2 linked regions of the Homo sapiens genome follow. The protein of the gene in region 2 purifies or fractionates together with the protein of the main gene of each other region. This does not show direct contact. Each region holds a gene or a part of one and is shown on either strand. Other genes may lie near its edges.

Region 1 (3,668 bases), on a different chromosome or scaffold from region 2:
ATAGATGAATTTAGTTTGGCACAATTTTGACTCAAATTAGCCTAGCACTTTAACAAATTCAGTCAAAAACAGAAAAATGCAAGCTTAAATGTTACAATTTTCTAAATGTGCTACATTCTTCACCAAACAGACTGATACAAGATGTCTTACGCAACTCTCGGGAATATTCAAATAAGCAATACCACACACAAACAAAATGCAGGATAACAGGATACTCAGAAACATACACACATACACACCCACACAAGTCCTTACCTTCATGGCATGGATTTCTTCAAGCAATCTTTGCGCCCGTCTTTGGTTTTTTAACAGTGCATCTTCAGTACCCCTGCAAAAAATACATTACGATATGTAGCCAGGCAAAGCATTAATTTTAGACTTATAGTGTAATGGATAATCACTTCATTTCTTTTTAGAAAAGCGTAATAAATCTCTAAATAACAAACACGCCACTATCCTACACTGTCCATTTCCCCCACTCCCAAAACACACCTCAATTTACTAACCAAACCCATATGTTGGAAAATGGCAAAAATAAGTACTGTCTTGCCATTGTATTAATGACTATTACTTTTGATAGTTTGCCTTCTCTAGTTCCTTAATAACACTTTTTTAAATCAATCAATCGTACATTGTATTTAATGTAATATAAATGTCATAATTTACAATTAGAGTTTGACTATAATTTTATCAAATGAAAATTTGCTCTCTGGCATTTAAGGAAAAAATAAAGAAGGGCTATATTCTGACATATTTATGAAAGAATAGGAAATTAATCAGGAACAAAACATACTTGAAGACTAAGTATTCATGCTTACATCATAAAAAGAACTATAAATAAAATACTTTTTCACTAACACTAGTGATACTGAAAATACAAAATATTGTATTTTTCCAAAAAATTACATGGAACACAATGTTCTAATAAACACTTTCATAAGGTACTGAAGATTTCAAATTACTTAGCAATTCAAGAAAAAATGTGATATAAAATCTTCAAAACTGATTCTTAAGGTATTACTAGATTTGTTAAGCTGTATCAGTATCTTAAAATAACTTCTGATAACACAAAACACACAAGCCCAAGGGAATTTCATTCTAAAAAGACCAAAAGAGAGTTTTGCAAAAGCAGCAAAAAAATTCATCCTGTATCTTGAGCAATGATGGTCCAAACCATAGAAGGGCATGCTGACACAGCACATTCTATCTCACTCACATCATCTCCGCATACAAAACAAAAATGGTGTATAAGACATTTAATTACTTCTCTATATCCCACCCTAAACATTTTAAAGTATCAAATAAAAACAACTTTTGACATTTTATTAGTCACAAGATCATTACTTTAAATGACTAACTTTTTTGACTTCAGTCGGCCAACACTCCTGACAAGTTTTCGGATAACTAAAACTCGAATTCTCTTCACTTCTTTTCTCATCTTCACAACCTTTGAAGAATAAAGCAATAATTAGAAGAAAGGCACTTACTTCAGGAACAAACACACTTTATTTTGAGTCTTAATATTTGAGACTTAGTCTACCACTTTAACTACTTTTATTGTCTAACTATATTCGTAGCTTGATGAAATCAAACCTCTTCCATAAATAGTGAAGGAATAAATCAACAGTCTAAAAATGTGTCTGAGAGCTTAAGAAAAACAAGTTATAATTTTTTAAAAAGTCACAGTATTACCCGAGATAAGTATTTTAATGTTACACTTATATCTTGCTGGGCTTGGAATATAATAAACAGTGAGTTCCCTGAAATCACAGCCTGTCATATTCATCTTTGTATTCCCACCGTTAAAACAAAGCCTCACTCATAATGGTAGGAATTTAATTTGTTGAATGACTATTTTAATTAGCAAATTAGCTTTTAATTAGCAATTTATTTTACATATTTATAAAACAAATCTTTCATTATTTTTAGTAACAAATTATTTCAAGTATAATTTTAAAAGAAGATCCACAAACACAAGGGCATTGTGTGCAAGCATATGTGCATGTAAACATACATGCCCCCCCCCCACACACACATGCACACACATACAAATACATAATTTAAATCACCCTACTGGAGAACAATGTTTAACTCTAAGAACAAAAAGCAGAGCTATAGGCCAAAAAATGGAAATTATAGTTATAAAAAAAATACACATTATAACAGCTTTCAGTGCAATGGCATGTAATTACGGAGTTTATATTTCATCTATCAGTTACGAGGCATACATCTTAAAAATTACTCCTGGAATGTCCTTCTTCCCCTTCTTCACTTTAGGAACTATATAAAATTCAGGTTCAGATATAGTCATTCCAGTGATACCTTCAATGACTTCTTCAGTTAAGGATAACCACTCCATCCCTGGGGTCCCCACTATACAGATTCTGTCATTAAAGCATCTACCTCACTGCACTGTTACTAATGGCTCATGTGGCTGTCTTTTTCTATAGACAGCAAGCTCCTAGAAAACAGGAGTCTTGTAATATTTATATAGTGTTTTCTTTGCCCTGCAAGAGTGCCTGGCACAAAAAATTCCTCAAATTCTTCTTGCCAAAATAACATTATCAACATCATCCTGTTTCTTTAAGGCTCTTCCATTTAATTAATATCTTCTCTTACCCTTCATGTCATTCACTCCCTTATTCACTGAAGATATTAGCAACCAACTTACAATTTCTTTACACCCTAAGTTCTGCCATCATTCTGTGTAACTTGCATGTCCACTTGAATAGCCCATCTGATAATTATATCTTCACTTCTTTACTTATTTTCTAAAGACCTAATCTATTCTATCTCAGCCATCCACTTCCATGGCCACACTGTCAACCTTGTCATCACTCATAATATTCAATTTCTAAAACCATTAATTCAAATATTCCACACTGTGATCACAACCTCTATCAGCTTGCTTGTTCAACTCCACCCACCACAACCATCTTTGACTTCATTAGGACCACCAATCCACTGACTCCTACACTTAATGTTCCTCTTTTTATGCAGTTTAGATACATGATAACATCTGCCAATTTCTTAAACTCCTGCCCCTCTGGTGAGGAAACCGTAGTCCTGAATGAAAAAAACACTCTGAGTTCTTCATTGTCATATGCCAACAGCAAATACTTGTAACATTCTGTCTACTATAAATTCATCATAATTAACCTCAAGTGGACCCCCATTCTTCCTAGCCATCCTGTATTTTTCTGTTCAGTTCACTCTACAATGCCTGTTTTAAGCTTTTGCCTACTCTCCTAAATCCTCTAGTCTCCGTCCTCCTTTCTCTCTTTCAATCGTGTGGAGAAAATAATTATCAGTTGGGAACCATCATTTTTCTACTACCATGAATGCAAATGTACTTCCATGACCCATCTTCCTTTACGAATAAAGTTACAATATAAGAAATACCACTACACATATCTGAGTTTATCTTTTAACTGTCTTTTAGAGCCCATTCTCTTCTGCCTTCCTAGAACCTCTACTATGGATTATCCCTTTACCATAGCATTGTCATTCTCTTCCTTTTAATGCATTTGTTTCCCACTGATTTTTAAACATGATTGAGTCATTTTCATTAGAGACTAAATAAACATCCTCATTACATGGTTCACTAGGACCACTCCCTCTTCAGTTGTGTGGAGAACTAAGCTTTTAGAAAGAGACGTCCAAACTCA
Region 2 (3,668 bases):
GTGAAAGAATGGATTTCTCAGAACTTTATGCTAAAAACATATAGGCTGGTGAGCCGTAATTTAAAAAAACACGGAAGAGAAGTTCTGAAATCATAATAAATACTCAGCATTATAAACTGATGTAGTGCTTTTAAGTTAGGGTCATTGTCTTTTTGTTGGGAAGACATGAGCTGTTAACATCACTTTTGAAATGAAAGAAGTCTTGTGGCATTTGCCACTTGAGTGAGACTTTTGTCTCTGAAGTCACTGAATCACTGAGCCAGCCCTTGACCAGTCAGTGGGGCAACTTCTCTCTTGTGTGCTCTGAGCTGCTCTACTAGTTAAAGCTATTTGTTGACTCAAATTGAAGTTAATGCACGTTTATAAAGGTAAAAACTTTTGAGGCTCTTTTCTTGACAACTAAGCTAGAATTTGTGGAAAAATTAGGAGAGATAAAGGAGAGTTGGCTGCTTAGATATGGACTTACGGATTCATAGATTTTTGGGTATGAATCTCTTTGGTTGGGGAGTGAAGGCTTCGCTTAGGTTGGACCTGTCAGGAGGGGCGGCCTGTTTCTGAGAAGTGGAAACAGCATTGAGGCTTCTTGGACCTGTTAGGAGAGTACCAAGAACATACTAGGTTTTCCTATTTGCTGCCTTTTTTCCATAGGGGTGGGAGACGGGGGACATAGAATTACGAGTTTCTCTTCCCATTGGAGGGATTTCTTTTTGAAGTAGTGAGAAGTAAATCACCCAATAGCTTCTCTCTTCCCCCCTTTTAAAATGTCTTTTGTGGGCTGGTGGGCATTTGTATTTGTTCATTAACGATGTTTTAGTATTTGCAATACTAAATAAAAACATTGTTTTTCTTTTTTTCCAGGAAAGTCCCCAGAGGAAAAAAAGGAAATCAGAAGCTGTAGGAATGAGTAACCAGACTGACTTATTGGCTCTTGGCACAGCAGTTGGTAGCATTTTATTATACAGCACAGTAAAAGGAGAGTTACACAGTAAATTAATAGTAAGTGTGTGTATATTTTATTTAAAAGTGATGTGACAGGGAAGCTGATTATTAGAGATTATTAAAAAAAAAACACTTCAAGGTATGTGATGGGATCTGTGCAGTAGGGACAGTTTTCAGTCTCATCTACGTTTAAATAACTGAATAGTAATATTTGATAAAAGCTATAATAGTTAACAGCAGTCCTTATTATGGGTCAGAGTATGAAGACTTATTGACTAGGTTTAAAATAAGGAAGGGTTACAGGAACTCTAAGGAATCATAGATAGCAGCTGTGGAAAGCAGCTCCCCACCTCTTGACCTAGGGGAATAAAGGAGGCAGTTGAAATTACTGCTAACACTGAGATCTTTTAGGGGCAAGTGTTGTGCTGCTGTTGCTGTCTCTTGAAGAGTGGCCCCATGGGCATGGGATCGAGACTTCAAACTGAGAAGGAGGCTCCAGCTGCCTGGTGCTAGTGTCTCTGATGGAGATGATGAGATTGGTTCTCCTAGGGTTGGATAAATTGGATATTGGGTTCAGCTGCTGCTGTTGGGCATTACCACTGTTGGGGTGATGCAAATAAAGAGACAGGAAGGAACAAGTCCCTTCTCTCTCCATCCTTGTCTCCCTCTAGCAGTTGCTATTGGTAGAACCTATGGATCGAGCTGGGAAATCAGAAATCAGGTTGCTGAGTCCCAGCATCACAGCAGAATATAAAGGATGGTTTGGCATTGGAAGACAGTAACCGAACTGGTCTAGTAGGTTCAGACAATATCTATTGCAGTGTGTTTTTGTTCGCTGGACTTCTGTATATAGGAGTGTTTTAAGTTTTTTGTTTTAAATAACATTTGTCTATAGGAAATTTGTAACTACATAAAGTTGAAAAGGAAAAAAATTTATACCTAAGTCTGTCGCCGAGAGGTCCTCTTAATAATTTGTATATTTCTTTGCTTTATACATACATTAAAAAAATATAGTTGGCTTTCTGTTCATCTAGTTTGTATCCTGATTTTTTTCATTAGATTACAACATAACTATCTTATATTTGTCAATAACTGGTTATAGAGATTTTTAGTGACTGCTTAAAATCCCAACAAGTGGGATAGTCCATTATGTTACTTAACTTGTTGACCATTTAGGGGTTTCCAGATTTTTAAATTGTTGTAAAACAATTTCTTTTTCTTACATGGATTCACAGAATTACTAACCTAAAATTAGTGAGCCAAAGGGTTGCTATATATGTAGTATAAAAATACTTTCTGGAATAATTTTTACTAATTTATGCTTAATATCAGTGATAGGAGATAAGTACTTTATCTCAGCAGTATCATTACCACTACTGAATAGCCCAACAAAACAGCAACAACGACAACAAAGAAACAGCTAATTTGGTAGAGGAATATTTTAATCTGATTTTAAGTTTGCATTTAGGAATGTATTACTTGTTTTTATATTAAGATTACAAAAATAATACTCAACTATAAATGAATTTTAAAGCATTCAGAGATCCATCTCAAGAAAGCATTCTTCCCTATATTCTTCCCCCCTCCTCCAAGTCGAGTGTGGTCCTCAGGTGAGCTCTTACACCTACTATAGGTAGGAGCCTATCCTTTAATTGGATAGGTTTTTTGTGTTCAGCAGGTACCTAGCATCTTGTGCAGTGTGATAGCTGCTCAGCTGCTGTGGCTGCTGGAGCCTAGAAGACTTATTTTTTTTTAAAGACAGAGTCTCACTCTGTCGCCCAGGCTAGAGTGCAGTAGTGCGGTCTCAGCTCACTGCAACCTCTGCCTCCTGGGTTCAAGTGATTTTCGTGCCTCAGCCTCCTGAGTAGCTGGGATTACAGACGTGCACCACCATAGCTGGCTCATTTTTGTATTTTTAGTAGAGATGGGGTTTTGTCATGTTGGCCATGCTGGTGTCGAACTCCTGGCCTCGTGTGATCTGCCTGCTTGGCCTCCTAAAGTGCTGGGGTTACAGGCATGAGCCACCATACCCAGCCTAGAACTCCTTTTTATATCATTTCACAACCTTACAAGATTGTAAATACATCTTCGACAGGGATGAATTTATCAAAAAGGAGTCAAGAGGGTCAGGGTGAGGGGTACTGGGATGGTATGGTAAGGTGGAAAAGGACCAGGCTTTGGAGCTAGTCTGTCCTGAGGTTGAATCCTACTAGTTGTATGATCATGTGTGAATAATTTAACTTCTCATCCCTTAAATGGGTATTAACAGCCTACCTTGCATGATTTTATTAAGACTTAAATGTAATAATGTATTGAAAGTGCCTGGCTTGTAAGTGGTATTTAGTAAATATTTGTTGAATGAGTAAGTGAACAAGTGAGTGAACACATCGCTAAATTGCTTTCCAAAAGGGTATGCTAGTTTACACTGCTGCTGGCAATAGTATTATGTAACCTCACCAGCATGGGCATCATAAGGCTAAACACATTGCTACAGGAACAGACTAAAAATGCCACTTTGTTTTGGTTTGTATTTCTTTGATTACTAACAAGGTTGAATATTTTGGTATATTTTCTAACTGAATTCTTTCTGTGGAATGTATCTGTTCATATCCTTTAGTTACTTGCGTGTATATAAGACTTAGTTCTTGGAGTACACAGCTGATAGGAAGGAAGGAAAGTAACTGAATGTAACATTTTAAAATATTTTTCTTTTGAAGTGGTAACAATGT

Evidence for each region.
Region 1: the proteins of WDR43 (region 2) and SRFBP1 purify together in Homo sapiens (co-immunoprecipitation; one large-scale study listed by IntAct). This does not show direct contact.

Annotation. Positions count from the first base shown.
Region 1 is NC_000005.10:121,971,975-121,975,642, reverse strand, and holds part of SRFBP1 (serum response factor-binding protein 1), read right to left. Parts: intron 1,448-3,668; coding exon 1,359-1,447; intron 329-1,358; coding exon 256-328; intron 1-255. UniProt on the Homo sapiens protein: May be involved in regulating transcriptional activation of cardiac genes during the aging process. May play a role in biosynthesis and/or processing of SLC2A4 in adipose cells.
Region 2 is NC_000002.12:28,901,129-28,904,796, forward strand, and holds part of WDR43 (WD repeat-containing protein 43), read left to right. Parts: intron 1-858; coding exon 859-996; intron 997-3,668. UniProt on the Homo sapiens protein: Ribosome biogenesis factor that coordinates hyperactive transcription and ribogenesis. Part of the small subunit (SSU) processome, first precursor of the small eukaryotic ribosomal subunit.